2 separate regions of the Homo sapiens genome follow, and region 1 is linked to region 2. A link means that fine-mapping ties the variant in region 2 to the expression of a gene that starts in the linked region. Tissue or cell type: lymphoblastoid cells. Region 2 holds a variant in brackets; the other region holds the start of a gene. All regions are shown on one strand. Distances are between the middles of the regions.

Evidence for each region. PIP is the estimated chance that this variant, and not a neighbour inherited with it, causes the effect.
Region 1: it holds the start of SLC68A1, and the variant in region 2 is fine-mapped to the expression of SLC68A1 in lymphoblastoid cells (GEUVADIS, PIP 0.95). The same link has a PIP of 0.9 or more in prefrontal cortex.

What each region holds. Positions count from the first base shown.
Region 1 is chr10:102,458,267-102,466,366 of GRCh38, reverse strand. SLC68A1 (solute carrier family 68 member 1) reads right to left here and starts at 4,972. Exons shown (of 10, transcript NM_024789.4): 1 at 4,917-4,972; 2 at 280-385. It overlaps LOC124902493 (a long non-coding RNA gene), which reads left to right. Exons shown (of 3, transcript XR_007062270.1): 2 at 553-689; 3 at 4,307-5,574. RefSeq lists enhancers at 3,890-4,572, 4,573-5,256, 5,384-5,453 and a silencer at 4,894-5,113.
Region 2 is chr10:102,494,643-102,502,742 of GRCh38, reverse strand. ACTR1A (actin related protein 1A) reads left to right here and starts at 31. Exons shown (of 11, transcript NM_005736.4): 1 at 31-143. The coding sequence starts at 96. RefSeq lists enhancers at 53-152, 1,547-2,047. The variant A/GA (reference allele first, on the strand shown) is at 4,418.

The DNA.
Region 1 (8,100 bases), 36 kb after region 2:
GGATTACAGGCACCTGCCATCATGCCCAGCTTATTTTTGTATTTTTGTAGAGATGGGGTTTCACCATGTTGCCCAGGCTGGTCTTGAACTCCTGACCTCAGGTGATCTACCCACCTCAGCCTCCCAAAGTGCTGGGATTACAGGTGTGAGCCACCGCGCCTGGCCAATAATGCCTATCTTTACAGGGGTACAGAAAGGATTAAACAAATGTCCAGGAAGCACAGAGCACCGTGCTGTCACACGGAAGATGCTCAGAAAGTAGCTTTTTATTGGGCTCACCTAGATCAGGGTAGGAGCAGGTAAATATCCTTGTAATCGGGCTCCTTCCTCAGGTAAGGGAATTTGAAAAGATGGGTCACACGAGGAAAAGTCAGAAGATGGGGGCCTGCAAGGAGCAGGAACACATACAATGTTTGAGAATGCCAAAGACAAACTGCCCCCGGCCCCCTGTAGACCTGTGCCAACTGCAACTTGTCCAGGTAAACAGCCATCCTGGAGAGGAAGCTGAGGCAGGAGTGTGCAGGGTTACTCTTTTAATGTTTTCTCTTCCAGATTCCACTCCTCCATCGGGAAACAGCCTTCTCCCACTTGCCCTCCCCACCCTCAATCTGCCCCAGCAGAGAACAGCAGCCCCACCTCTCCCAGGGAAGAACAGCTTGGAGCCCACACCAGCCTCCTTGCATAAGCTGGTGAGAAATCCTGTAACCTGCAACCAACTCCACCCACCTCCCTGGCACCTTCCAAGACCCACCCTCATGGTCCCAGCTGGTGGCCTTGAGCCAGTCACTCCCTCTCCCTGAGCCTCAGGCTCCTCGCCCACAAAGTGGGGATGTTAATGTCAACCTCTTAGATGGCTGTGGGCTGAAATGCAAAAGGAATTTAAAGCCAAGTGCCTGCTACGTGGAAGACCCTCAATACACAGCAGCTATTTTTTTTTTTTTAAAGATAGAGTCTCGCTCTGTCACGCAGGCTGGAGTGCAGTGGCTCAATCTCAGCTCACTGCAACCTCCGCCTCCTGGGTTCAAGCAATTCTCCTTCCTCAGTCTCCTCAGTAGCTGGGATTACAGGCGCCTGCCACCACACTCGGCTAATTTTTTTTCTTTTTGTAGAGATGGAGTCTTGCTCTGTCGCCCAGGCTGGAGTGCAGTGGCGCAATCTAGGCTCACTGCAACCTCTGCCTCCTGGGTTCAAGCCATTCTCCTGCCTCAGCCTCCTGAGTAGCTGGGATTTACAGGCGCACGCCACCACACTCGGCAAATTTTTTTTTTGTATATTTAGTAGAGACGGGGTTTCACCATATTGGTCAGGCTGGTCTCAAACTCCTGACCTTGTGATCCGCCTGCCTCGGCCTCCCAAAGTACTGGGATTGCAGCCATGAGCCTCCACACCCGGCCTAATTTTTGTATTTTTCATAGAACTGGGGTTTCACCATATTGGCCAGGCTGGTCTTGAACTCCTGACCTCAAGTGATTTACCTGCCTCGGCCTCCCAAAGTGTTGGGATTACAGGTGTGAGCCACTATGCCTGGCCCACAGTAGCCATTTTCTTTTTCTTTTTCCTCTTTTTTTTTTTTTTTTGAGACAGAGTCTCGCTCTGTTGCCCAGGCTGGAGTGCAGTGGCACAATCTCGGCTTACTGCAACCTCTGCCTCCCAGGTTCAAGCAATTCTCCTGCTTCAGCCACCCGAGTAGCTGGGATTACAGGCATGCACCACCACGCCCAGCTAATTTTTGTATTTTTAGTAGAGACAGGGTTTCACCATGTTGGTCAGGTTAGTCTTGAACTCCTGACCTTGTGATCCACCCACCTTGGCCTCCCAAACTGCTGGGATTACAGGCATGAGCCACTGCGCCCGGCCTACAGTAGCCATTTTCTTTCCATTTCTTTGAAGTTTGGTTTCATGATTTTTTTTTTTTTGAGACGGAGTCTCACTCTGTCGCCCAGGCTAGAGTGCAGTGGTGGGATCTTGGCTCACTGCAACCTCCGCCTCCCAGGTTCAAGAAATTTTCCTGCCTCAGCCTCCCAAATGGTTGGGATCACAGGCGTGCGCCACCATGCCTGGCTAATTTTTGTATTTTTTGTACAGACGGGGTTTCGCCACGTTGGCCAGGCTGGTCTTGAACTCCTGACCTCAAGCAATCCGCCCGCCTTGGCCTCCTGAAGTGCTGGCTCACAGGCGAGAGCCACCGTGTGGTTTCATGATCTTTAAAGATCAGTCACTAGGTGGGGCGTTGTGGCTCATGCCTGTAATTTTAGGACTTGGGAAGGCCAAGACAGAAGGATTACTTGGGGCCAGAAGTTAGAGACCAGCTGGGGCAACATCAATCAAAAATAAAAATCATTGACCTTTCTGCCAAATCCATGATTGAAATTGTCTTTCCAGCACCCAAGCTTTATGCCTTTTGCCACCTGGAATATCCTAGCCCCTCTTGTCTGCCATCCATCAAATTCCTTTCTAAATGCCACCTCCACACTTTTGTTCATGCTGTTCCTGTCACCTAAGATACCCTAGGATAACTATATACTATTCCTCAGCCATACAGGGTATGCTTGGCTTTTATATCCATCATCAGACCCCTTACAGCTCTGTTACTATCTGCATTCACGTTCTGTACATGAAGAAACCAAGGCTCTGAAGATTAAATAACAGGCCCAAGTTACAAAGCTAGTAGGTGCTGGAGTCAAGATTCAAAACAGGTTTTGACTAAAACAACAGCGTTCTCACTTCATCATCCCCCCCACACCCTGCCCCCATCTTATCAAATCCTGCTCATCCAGTGTCACGGCTTTCCCAAGCACACCCAATCACGTGTTCTCTCCCGTTTTCCCCCTTATCAGGCATCCAAATGCCTCCCTTCCCCTCCTCCAGCCCACAGGCTTCTTAAAAGCAGGGCTGATACCGGGCGCGGTGGCTCACGCCTGTAATCCCAGCACTTGGGGAGGCCGACGCGGGCGAATCACGAGGTCAGGAGATCGAGATCATCCTGGCTAACACGATGAAACCTCCTCTCTACTAAAAATACAAAAATTAGCCAGGCGTGGTGGCGGGCACGCCTGTAGTACCAGCTTACTCGGGAGGCTGAGGCAGAATAGCGTGAACCCGGGAGGAGGAGCTTGCAGTGAGCCGAAATCGCGCCACTGCACTCCAGCCTGGAGGACAGAGTGAGACTCCGTCTCTTAAAAAAAAAAAAAAAAAAAGCAGGGCTGGGTTAGTCCCGCCCTTGATCCCTGCCCTTTGCCTCCACCAGGCTCCCTCAGCTTGCTCAGTCAATCCCTGCTGGGTCGATTGGCCCCTAAAAGGTCAATATCAACAACATCCTCAGCCCTAGGGAACAGCAGCAGCAGTCATAGGAAAACTGTCATCTTCAGACCCCACTGTGCCCCTCCTAGCTCTGTGTTCTGCTTAACTGTGGGAGTCAGAGAGAAGGGGCAGCCTGGGAGGCTTGATGTGCCTCTCTGAGTAAGACACTAAAGCAAGGCAGCAGGTACAAAGAAGAATAGTGATCATAACAGAGGAACATTTATTAAGCTTTCGCCGGGTGCACAGCACTGTGCTAAGAGACACAGAAACAATCTGGGAAGAGAGCTCAGAGCAGCGCGGGAGAAAGGGGCCACATCAGGAAGGGTTTTGTAAACCTTGTGCAAGATTCTATGCTGAGGACAACAGGTGGGGCGCTGGGGGTGGGGAAGTGACAGATCTGTTTGGAAGAAGCCCTCTAGCAGGTGTCAAAACTCTTCCCCTTCACCCTACCAGGCCCCTGGTAGGTAAAGACTAGAAAGGGATGGAAGCAGCAACATCTCCCTGATTTCTGAACCAACCTATGGTGGGTGGGGGAGGTTGATGAATTTAGTGGCGGAAACCAAGAATGCCGAACTGGGCCCCTGGAGTGAGAGGTATCAGACTGTACAAGAGACATTAGTGCAGAGGTAAAAGCTAAGAAGAGGCATAATTTGGAGTCAGGAGCCCTGGGTCAGGTGTGAACATTATCTTTAACTTACTATCTGAGTCTATTCCTACATCTGTGAAGCAGAGAAAACAATTCCATTCTCTGCCTATCCTCAGGAATACCAAATGAACAAATGAACATGAAAGGTATAATATGTGCCCTTTTCTCAACAGGCAGCTGACCCCTGAATTGTCTGCTGTGTTTCCTGTTTCACTCTCGGGGTCTTGTCTTCCTGCCCAGTCTCCCCACAGCAGGGTCTAGCACCAGGGTTGGGGGGTGGGGGCCCATCCTCCTCCTCCGGCTGGAAATGAGCTTTCAACTTGTTGAGATGGGGACCTTCTCCCTCTCCCTCCCCCACAGGTCCCAGAAGAGGCGACAGCTTCACCTCAGGACCACCCACCCCTCCCAAGCCACTGAGGAGTTTGGGATCAGCCCAGGAGCTCTTCACTCAATAGCTGGTGCTGAAACACGTGTAGGGCTGCTCCCCACCGCCTGCACGTTAAAATCACCTGAGGAGCTGTGCAATAATACCGAGGCCCAGGCCTCACCCAGAACAGTTAAATCGGAATCTCTTCGGGCGGGCCCAGCATCGGTGTTTTTCAAAGCTCCCCAAGTGCCACCAGGGTTAAATGCCTTTATGCTAATGGCACGGATCCCGACCTGACCAGTGCATCCCTCGATCCCAGACCACCAGGGAGCTATTTGACCCACTGCATCCCTTTCCTCCAGACCCCCGGAGAGCCTTTCTGCGAGGATTCCACCCTTGCCCCCTTGAACCCCGCTTCTTCCGCCCGGACCACACAACTCTCCCAATCCACAATATGATCACCCCAAAGACCCCCGCAGATAGCCCCCATGACTCCCAGAGCGCAAAGCATTCCCCTCCCCCTCGGGTCTGTCGTTTGTGCCAGATCGGCCCCAGCCCAGCCCGCTCCTGCCCGCGAGCCCCGGCCGCTGGCCAGCGTCTCACCGCAATCGTAGCCGGCGAAGCCTAATCCCACGGCTGGCGGGAGCCAGGTGCGAGCCAATGCGCCTGCGCGCACTTCTAGGGCTTCCCCAGCCTCTCCCTCCGCCCCCGCCCAGCGATTGGCTCCGCGCGGCCCCCGGGCGCAGCTCCGGCAGGTGACTGCGCCTGAGGCTGCCGCCGCCATGTTTGTCACGGGCGCTTGCCCTTAGCGACCAAAATTAAAAGCGGACACTGGCAAATAGGGTCAGGTTGCCTGGATTCCTGACCGGCTCAACCCCTCTCCTTTACCTCCACGATAGCTTAATGTCATTTCAGTTGAAACCAACACGTTTTTTCTAAGCGCTCACCTTCCTTCCCTCCTTGCCTAGTACTCGTTGGGAGAACAAAGAGAGGTCAGCATCCTCCATTGAGTCTTGTGGTCTGAGCGGATGCACAGCTGCAGCCGACTTGGAGGTGTCAGCGGCTCGATCTGGGACTCCCTGATGCTGCATCATGAGCCCTTCAAGGGTGGACAGGTCCAGGTTGAGCTGTGGGCACCAGGGCTCTAGCCACAGGAGCCAGGGCTGAAGGTGGGAAACAGCCACCAGGGCCTGAATGAGCAACCATGCAGCACAACCTCTTTGTATTAATAACGGCAATAATAAAACCTAAGGAGTACTGAGTGCTTGCTATGTGCACCGTACTACATTCAGAACAACACGTGCATTCTCTTGTTGAGTCCTCACATCATTCCTAGGAGGTAGGCGCTTTTATCCACATTTTATATGTGAAGAAACTGCATTTCAGAGAGATTCAATGACACGCAAACAGCAAGGGCCCAGTCGAGGTGGAACCCGCTATCCTGACTCCCATAACAAGAGTCTTTCCTCTTCCCACACCTGCACAATCCCTCAAAATCAAGTTTTGTTTGGCTCAATGTAGGCTGTGGAGGATGTTTTATGTTTTCTCCCAATTGGCCTGTAAGCCTGGATAGGTTTTTGGGCAAGCAAACAGCACACATTCCAGCTCTGCCTGGTTCCCCTACCTTGGGACACAGGGCAAAAAGCCTGTGGCCTTTGCCTTATGGGGGACTTGGAACTCAACCCCTAGCTCCAACACTTCTTTGCTAAGGGACTTCTTTATTATTATTTTTTGAAACAGGGTCTTGCTCTGTTGCTCAGGCTAGAGTGCAGTGGTGGCATGATCTCAGCTCACTGTAACCTCCACCTCCCTGGCTCAGATGATCCTCTCACCTTAGCCTCCCAAGTTGCTGGGACCACCACCTCACTCCACCATGCCTGGCTAATTTCTAGAATTATTTGTAGAGATGGAGTCTCACTATGTTACCCAGGCTGGTCTTGAACTCCTGGGCTCAAGGGACCCTCCCGCTTCAGCCTCCCAAAGTGCTGGAATGATAAGCGTGAGTCACTGCACCTGGCTGGGACCCTCCTTTTGTGAGTCTGTTTTATGCTTTACAGGGATTTTTCAGACATTAAATGAGAAACAAGGGTGTAGGAGCTTTGTGAACTGCTCATCCTTATGACCTTCATTGATGGTTGTCGGCTAACTTCCTGCAACAGGAATGTTGTCCTCCTCCTAACAACCACAGCAAATGGTCCAATGTAGACGCCTAGTGTCCAGGGGCTACAGATTATTCAACCAGTTCCTGAGGAGCCCCCAGGGATGCCATGAACCTTGCCCCCAGAATCCATCTCCCACTAACCTGTCTCATTTCCCTCCTTCCCAATCTCTCTCTTTCGGACACCCTTCACACTTCCCATGTCACCCCAAGCCACACATACACGCACACACATACATACAACCATCTCTCTTCTAGACTTAGACAACTGCTGAAACTCCTCCTGATCCAGAAAGCCTCATGAGTAGAAGACAGGTGATCATTTTGTCCCTCTCCTCACCTCTTACCTCCATCTGTGCTTTCCTGGCTGTGAGAACAGAAAACCCAGCATTCAGCCTGGGGTCCGGCACACTGGGATCTCCATACATTTGCTAAAGGAGTCTCCCCGCCTTTCTATCTGTGGCCAGCATGTGCTTTTATTTCAAAGCAAACCCGAGTCTTTACTTAGCCCTCCCTGGGTATCCAGTGGGGAAATGGAAATGGGGAGGGCTGGCAGGGGCCAGAGCTGGATGTGACCCAGGAGAAAAGACCTTTGGTCCCTCACAGCCAGGCAAGGTGGCTCACACCTGTAATCCCAGCACTTTGGGAGGCTGAGGTGGTTGGATCACGAGGTCAGGAGATCGAGACCATCCTGGCCAACATAGTGAAACCCCATCTCTACTAAAATACTAAAATTAGCTGGGCGTGGTAGCGTGTGCCTGTAATCCCAGCTACTCAGGAGGCTGAGGGAGGAGAACTGCTTGATCCAGGGAATCGGAATTTGCAGTGAGCCAAGATTGCACCACTGCACTCCAGCCTAGCGACAGAGTGAGACTCTGGCTAAAAAAAAAAAAAAAAGAAAAACAGAAAAAAGAAAAAAAGAAAAGACCTTTGGTCTCTCACGTTGCACTTAATGCCCCACAGTTACACTCTGAGGCCCCTCAACCCTCTGATTATATAGACAACGTAGCCAGTTACCTTTTATGTCAGCATCAGGGCAGGGCCTTGTGATTCTGTCTGATTTCTCTTTGTGGTTGCCAGTCACAGAGCTAACTGGGAGGGGAAATGCAATGAACTAGAGGCCATATCACCTCCCTAACTCATTGAGCCATACCGGAGTCCCTGGACCATGGGACAGATAGATTGTGCACTCTCTGTCTTTGAAATTCTCTCCTCCCTTTACTTCCCACCTCTCTGATCTAGTTTCTGCCATGTTCTCTTCCTACCTAATAATTCCTCCTCAGTCCCCTTCACTGCGGCACTTTCTCCCAGGGCCTCTAAAGGAAAAGGGAGGGTGTCCCAAGTTTCCATCTTGAATACTCATATACTCACTCAAACTTTTAATCCATGCCAGGCCACAGGCTGTGAGGTAAAGGGGACTTCAAAAACAAGATTGCTGGCCAGGTGCGGTGGCTCACGCCTGTAATCCCAGAACTTTGGGAGGCCGAGGTGGGCGGATCACCTGAGGTAAGGAGTTTGAAACCAGTCTGGCCAATATGGTGAAACCCCATCTCTACTAAAAAACACACAAAAAATTAGCCAGGCCCGGTGATGGATGCCTGTAATCCCAGCTACTTAGGAGGCTGAGGC
Region 2 (8,100 bases):
CCTGAACCGGCGGCTAGACTGCGCATGCGTGTCAGTGGCGCTAGCGGCGGACCCGGCTGGGCAGTTCCTTCCCCAGAAGGAGAGATTCCTCTGCCATGGAGTCCTACGATGTGATCGCCAACCAGCCTGTCGTGATCGACAACGTGAGTTGCGTCTTTCCTATCTATAAGGGGACTTGGGCTCTCCTCCTCGAAAGGATCGCTTCCCGGGGTTCAGCCTGAGCCGCCGGCTCTTTGTCACTGGCCCGGCCTGTCAGGCGCGTTCAGCCACCGCCGCCTCCTTCCTCCCCTTATCACATAGTCCGCAGGCAAGGCGGCCAGCCAGCAAAAGTGGGATGGAGAACTCTGGAGTGGATAAAGGAAAGAGTTATAGTCCAAGCCAGTCCTTGGGCCCTTGGCTCTAGGGGCCTTAACCGCTGTGTGAGATTCCCGTCGCCCGCCCTCTCCCCCATTTCCGATCGCTCTATTGGTTGCTCTGGCTGTCCATCTTAGCCAATGATACCGCCTCTTAGCCTTGCCGGATGAGGCTAGGCCTCTGCGGTGATTGGCTCACGCCCCTGCCATTCTTCCTTGCCGCCATATTGTTTTCCCTCTTGAAGGGGCGGGGCAGTGCTCCAGGGCTGTGGGGATTGGCTTCCGGGACTCTGGGTGGTGGGGCCTAGAGGCGAGTGCCCGCCCGCGGGTGGAGAACGGCTAAGTTTTCCTTCGGTCTCAGCCGGCGCTGCGGCTTGGTGGTGTGGATCTGGGTGGGGCCCGAGAATCTGGTGCCAGAAACCGCTGTAGGATGTCAGCTATTACTGTGATTATAAATTACAAAGTTGGTAAAGGTCGAGAAGAAAGGAGAGTGACAAAGGAAGCAGAGAGGTTGTCCTCCTCTTTGGAACGCCTAGTTCTTACGGGGAAAAAATTACCAAACTTAATATTTGCCTGGCGCTCTAGCGCTTCCAGGGCGTTTTCACATACATTCGAGTTGGATCCTCACAAAAACTGGACGCATAGTTTAAAAGGAACTTTGATCTTCGTGTTACCGATGAGAAAACTGAAGCGCGAAGACGTAACGTGAGCCCAAGGTCACATAGCAGAGGTGCCCTAAATCCAGTACTTTATCCGTCATCCCTTTTGCCAGCACCACCATGCAGAAGCATCAATATTGACCAATAGAAAGAATCTAAATACTGCTCTTATTTTGGGGGGAAAGGAGAAAATTGTAAAACGACTGCATTTCTGCCTTCGATTCAAAGCTTTGGTCCCACAGAGATTGATCCCTGTCTGTGTCCCTTGTAGGTCCCTCCATTGAGGCAAAACTACCAGTTCCCTCTGTTGTAAGCTGACTCTGTCAGATTCCCTTTGTTGATTCAGCTCTTGGGACCTTAGGCATATTACAATGTTCTCGTTTAAGCTTCAGCTCTGTTAGGTAGATAGGAATTACTATCCCCAGTGTATGCAGGGATGTTAAATAACAGATTTCAAACCATCCAGTTTAGGAATTGAGGAGCCAGTCATCAGACTAAGATCCAGTTCCAAGTTGCTTGCTTTTTCCAATATATTTTTGTTGTTGTTTTCATTAAATTTTCCTTCTCTCCATGGGTATTTTGTTTTTATTATTCCCCCTTAGAAAGGGGCAGGATTGAGCTCAATGAGACAGCTCATTTTTTTTTTCTTTTTTTTTTTTGGAGACAGGGTCTCGCTCTGTTGCTGAGTCTGAAATGCAGTGGCGCGATCACAGCTCACTGCAGCCTCAACCTCCTGGGCTCAAGTGATCCTCCCGCTTAAGCCTCCCGAGTAGCTGGGGCTGCAGGCACGCGCCACCACCCCTGGCTAATTTTTGTATTTTTTGTAGGAAGGGTTTCACCATGTTGTCCAGGCTGGTCTCAAACTCCTGGGCTGTTGCGATTCTCCTACCTTGGCCTCCCAAAGTGCTGGGATTATAGGCCTGAGCCACCGTGCCTGGCAGAGACGCCTCTTTTTTTGGTGTGGGGGGGTGGAGGGAACAGGATCTCGCTTTGTCACCCAGGCTGGAGTGCAATTGTGCGATCTCAGCTCACTGCAGCCTCCGCCTCCAGGTTCAAGAGATTCTCCAGCCTAGACTCCCAAGTAGCTGGGATTACAGATGTGCACCACCACGCCTGGCTAATTTTTGTTTGTTTGTTTGTTTGTTTGTTTGTTTGTTTGTTTTTGAGACGGAGTCTCACTGTCGCCCAGGCTGGAGTGCAGTGGCGCGATCTCGGCTCACTGCAAGCTCCGCCTCCCGGGTTCACGCCATTCTCCTGCCTCAGCCTCCCGAGTAGCTGGGACTACAGGCGCCCGTCACCTCGCCCGGCTAATTTTTTGTATTTTTAGTAGAGATGGGGTTTCACCGTGTTAGCCAGGATGGTCTCGATCTCCTGACCTCGTGATCCGCCCACCTCGGCCTCCCAAAGTGCTGGTATTACAGGCGTCAGCCACCGCGCCCGGCCTAATTTTTGTATTTTTAGTAGAGATGGGGTTTCACCATATTGGCCAGACTTGTCCTGAACTCCTGACCTCAAATGATCCACCCGCCTTGGCCTCCCAAAGTGCTGGGATTACAAGCATGAGCCACCACACCCAGCCCAGATACTTCATTTTTGAGAGGATCTTTTTGTCTCCCTCACTAGACTATTAAATCCTTGTGGAAAAAGATGATATTCTCCCACAGGTTTAGTGGTGTTGGGAAAAAAAATTTAAGAAAGATGATATTCCTTTAGTCTCACTTCACCCACTTCTCTCCACACACACACAGTATACCTAGGGTCTGGCACCTCTGTGTGCTCAATAAATGTTTTTTCATTGGATTGATGGGTGATTGGATGAATGACTGAATATCTCTATCAAAGTAACAAAGATATTCCTAAATAAAGAAAAGATGGGGAGTTTTCTCTAGTTAGTTACTGCAGATAATTGAGTAGGACTTTTTGTTCTTGATGTTGATTTTCAGAGAGCACTACGATTTCTGTCTTTAGCCAGGCTCTTTGTGCTTCTTCTGCCTTTTTCTTAGTTGTAAAAAGGAAAAATATATAGAAATTCAATTTCCTGTTTTCATCAGCAATGCAGAAGGAACAACCTGTCTATCCCACCAGCTCCTTTGCTTCTTGAATTGCTAGGCAGGAGTTCCATCTCCGGCCATTTTCTTTAATATCACTTACACTAATGCGTCTTAATTTTTTTCTTTCTCTTTCCTGGTAGTATGTTTCGAAATGCATTACAGCAGTGATGCATTTTTAGTTTCAAGATTTAAAGAATTGACTTGTCTTTTTTTTCCCCCTCTGGGAAAACATGTCCTTTATTATGCCAGTATTTCTGCCAAAAGGTGAAGTAGGAGAAACTTAAGTCATTTTCCTATTAGTATTTGCTGAAAATCTGCCACATTTTTACATGTGCGGTCTCAGGTAGTCCTTGTTGTTTAACATTTGGGGGGTCATTTTGTTTTTATTATTTTCAAGATGGTAGATGTATAGGAAACATTATTTGAAATACCTGAGACAACTTATTACATATAATGAGAATAATGTATCACTAGCTATGTTAACTCCATAGCTTAACATGTTGCTACACTTTATTTATGGGCAGAAGAGTATAATCAAAAGAATGCAGGAGAAAGAAAGCAGGGAAAGAGCCCCATTAAGTTCACAGCCTTTCCCAATCATAAGACAATTGTGACCACGTCTTTCATCTTACTCTGGCATCAAGTCATTTCATCAGAATTTAATGAGGAAAATGGAGGGGCAGGTAGGTGTGTGCTTTAATGACAACAATAAAGTGATAGGTATTTTTTTAATCACCCAAGAAGCTTTATGATGATAGATATTTTTTAAAACCAAATATAAGTCATTTCTTCCCAAAGACATAGAGAATAGTGTAAGATAGGAGCAGCTCCTAGGCCACATTTTGAGGACTACACTTTGATCAGAATACTATGTTTATTCTGAAACTCAAATTTTTCCTAAGATCCAGGCCAAATGTGGTGGCTTACTCCTGTAATTCCAGCATTTTGGAAAGCCAAGGCTGGAAGATCGTTTGAGCCCAGGAATTGGAGACCAGCCTGGGCAACATAGTGAGACTTCATCTCTACTTTAAAAAAAAAAAAAAATTAGCCAGGCTTGCTTGGTGGCATGCACCTGTAGGAGGCTGAGATGGGAGAATCACTTGAGCCCAGGAGTTTGAGGCTGCAGTGAGATCGTGCACCTCACTCCAGCCTATTTAAAAACAAAAACAAAAAAACTCTAAGTTTACAGTTTTGCCTGAACCTAAAATGGATCAACATTCCTGTCAAACTTAAAACTGTCTTTGTGACTATATGGACCTAAATGCAGGCTCTTCAGAAGTTCAACAATAAGCTAAGCATTTGTTTGTTTTGCTTTGGATGTTGTGCTGCTTCAGCCCCCTTTAAAAAAAAAAAA[A/GA]GAGAGAGAGAGATACTTTAAACACACAGAAAAATTCGGTGTGGTATATAACAAGCACCCAGGTAGCATGTGTCTACTACCCAGATTTAGTAAATATTGATGTTGCCATATTTGCTTCAGTATTTTTTTTGCTTTAGTGTTCCCATCCACCTTCATGTTTTAAGGAAATAAAACATTACAGATATAATTGAAGACTCTTTGTACCCCTCCACAACCCTATCTTTTTTTTTTTTTTGAGACAAGGTCTCACTCTGTTGCCCAGGTTGGGGCTCATTGGCACAATCAAAGCTCACTGCAGCCTCAGCTTGCCAAGCTTAAGCAATCCTCCCACCTCAGCCTCCCAAGTAGCTGGGACTACAGCCGTGTACCACCTGCTCAGCCTTTTTTTTTTTTTTTGTAGAAATGGGGTCTCCCTGTGTTCCCCAGGCTGATCTAGAACTCCTGGGCTGAAGCAGTCCTCCCACCTCAGCTTCCCAAAGTGCTGGTATTACAGGCATGAGCCACTGTGCCTGGCAACCCTATCCTTTCTCTCTGTTTTACAAATAATCCGCAAAACAACCATCATCATAAAATTGTCCTCCTTTTATACTCTGGAAGATAAGTCAGGAGAATTGTGTTGTTCAAGGCCAGCCTGGGCAATACAGCAAGACCCCCATCTCTTTAAAAAAAAAAATTGTGCTCCTTTCCACCTATGATTTTTTTTAATTTTTAATTATTATTTGTTTTTAAATTTTTTTTAGAGATGAGGTCTCACTCTATCACCCAGATTAGAGTGCAGTGCTGCAGTCGTAGCTCACTGCAGCCTCAAACTCCTGAGCTCGAGCAAACCTCCTGCCTCAGCCTCCCAAGTAGCTGGGAGTATAGGAGGAGCAAGCCACCATGCCTAGATCCATCCATGATTTTATGTGCATATGCATTTTAAGTTTGGCAGGGGAGTGTGCTGTTTGTGTTTTGAAAGTTTACTTAAGTGCTATCATCCTACTGTTATCTCTTTTTATTATAGCAATTTCAAACATACAAAGGAGAAGGAATAGTGTAAGGAACATCCATACGTTCACCTAGCTGTAACAGTTATCAAACTCTTGGCCAATCTTTTCAACTACATTCCTGCCCATTTCCCTCTCCCACATTCTTTTTTTTTTTTTTTTTTTTTTCCTGAGATGGAGTCTGCTGTGTGGCCCAGGCTGGAGTGCAGTGATGCTCACTGCAACCTCCACCTCCGTGGCTCAAGCGATTCTCCTGCTTCAGCCTCCCGAGTAGTTGGGACTACAGGCATGCACCACCATGCCCAGCTAATTTTTGTATTTTTAGTAGAGACGGGGTTTTGCCATGTTGGCCAGGCTGGTCTCGAACTTCTGGCCTCAAAGGATCCACCCGCCTCAGCCTCCCAATGTGCTAGGATTATAGGCGTGAGCCACCACGCCCAGCCCCACACTCATTTAAAAACATAATCAATATACTATTATCATGCCTAATCAAATCAACAAGAACCCCTTAATCTTATCAGTTATCTAGTCAATGTTCAGATTTCACTAATTGTCTAAAAAAATTTTTCTTTTACAATTTGTTATCAGCTTTTCTGATCCTACTAATGCTGATTCACTTAAGTTTTTAGGGACACTAGAATTAGCTGAGGAAATGAAGTCAATGTATTTATCTAACACTGTCACTTGCAGTGTGATATTCAGGCTGTTGGTTGTACAGCTTCAGCAAGAATCCATCCCTAGCTTGACAGAAAAGGTGAAGAAGAGGTGACTTATAAAGATATTTTCACTGTTCAATTATGTATATTTTGCAAGCCAAGGATGTGCTTCACACTGAGCTAAGTCCTCTGAGGGTAAAAAAGAAATCAGATACCATGTGGAAGAAGAAACGTCACCAATTAGTGGCTGCAAATGCCTAGAATAGGGATTTCAAATTCAATGCCTGCAGAGGCCAAGCAGGAATGGAAATATACTCAAAAGAGAAGAGAGAGAATAGCCTGAAAGGCACCTCTTCCAGGCTGGGAAATCTGAAAGGTGCATTGAATTGAGCATGCCTGACCAAAATGTTAACTGATTCTCCTTTCTATCCAATTGTCCCCATGCAGGAATACCGGCCTAGTGTTGCCAGATATTCTGATTTTTAAAAATTTGTGTATTTATCGAGGTCAGGAGATCGAGACCATCCTGGCTAACATGGTGAAACCCCGTCTTTATTAAAAATACAAAAAATTAGCCAGGCGTGGTGGCGGGCACCTGTAGTCCCAGCTATGCAGGAGGCTGAGGCAGGAGAATGGCATGAACCCGGGAGGCGGAACTTGCAGTGAGCCGAGATCTCGCCACTGGACTCCAGCCTGGGCAACAGAGCGAGACTGCGTCTCAAACAAAAACAAAATAAAATAAAAATACAAAAAAATTAGCCAGGTGTGGTGGCAGGCGCCTGTGGTCCCAGCTACTCGGGAGGCTGAGGCAGGAGAATGGCTTTGGACCCGGGAGGCGGAGCTTGCAGTGAGCCGAGATCACGCCACTGCACTCCAGCCTGGGCGACAGAGCAAGAGTCCGTATCAAAAAAAAAAAAAAAAAAAAAAATTGTGTATTTATTTATTTATTTATTTTGAGACGGAGGCTGTCTCTGTCGCCCAGGCTAAATTGCAGTGGCGCAATCTCGGCTCACTGCAACCTCCCCCTTGTGGGTTCAAGAGATTCTCCTGCCTCAGCCTCCCGAGTACTGGGACTATAGGCACGTGCCACCACACCCGGCTAATTTTTTTTTTTTTAGATGGAGTCTCGCACTGTCGTCCAGGCTGGAGTGCAGTCGCGCAATGTCTGCTCACTACAAGCTCCGCCTCCTGGGTTCACGCCATTCTCCTGCCTCAGCCTCCAGAGTAGCTGGGACTACAGGCGCCCACCACTTCACCCGGCTAATTTTTTGTACTTTTAGTGAAGACGGGGTTTCACCGTGTTAGCCAGGATGGTCTCAATCTCCTGACCTCGTGATCTGCCCGCCTTGGCCTCGCAAAATGCTGGGATTACAGGTGTGAGCTACTGCGCCTGGCCTTATTTTGAATTTTTTGTATATATTTTTTGAGGCAGAGGCTCACTCTATCGCCCAGTCTGGAGTGCAGTGGCAAGATCACAGCTCACTGCAGCCCTGACCTCTTGGGCTCAGCCTCCCAAGTAGCAAGGACTATGGACCCGCACCACCACACCCGAGTAATTTTTAAATATTTTGTAGGCCTGGTGTGGTGGCACATGCCTGTAATCCTAGCACTTTGGGAGGCCAAGGCGGGTGGATCACTTGAGATCAGGAGTTCGAGACCAGCCTGGCCAACATGGTGAAACCCCCTCTACACTAAAAATACAAAAATTAGCCGGGCGTGGTGGCGCACACCTGTAACAACAACTACTCAGGAGTCTGAGACAGGACTATCGCTTAAATCCAGGAGGCGGAGGTTACAGTGAGCCGAGATTGTGCCACCGCACTCTAGGTGGGTGACAGAGCCAGACTCCATCTCAAAAAAATTAAAATTAAAATTAAAATTAATATTTTGTAGAGACAGCGTTTTGCCATGTTGCCCAGGCTGGTCTCTCGAACTCTTGGCCTCAAGCAATCCTCCCTCATCTGCCTTCCAAAGTGATGGGGTGACAGGCGTGGGCCACCGCACCCAGCCATACTTTTTGTTTGTTTGGTTGGTTGGTTGG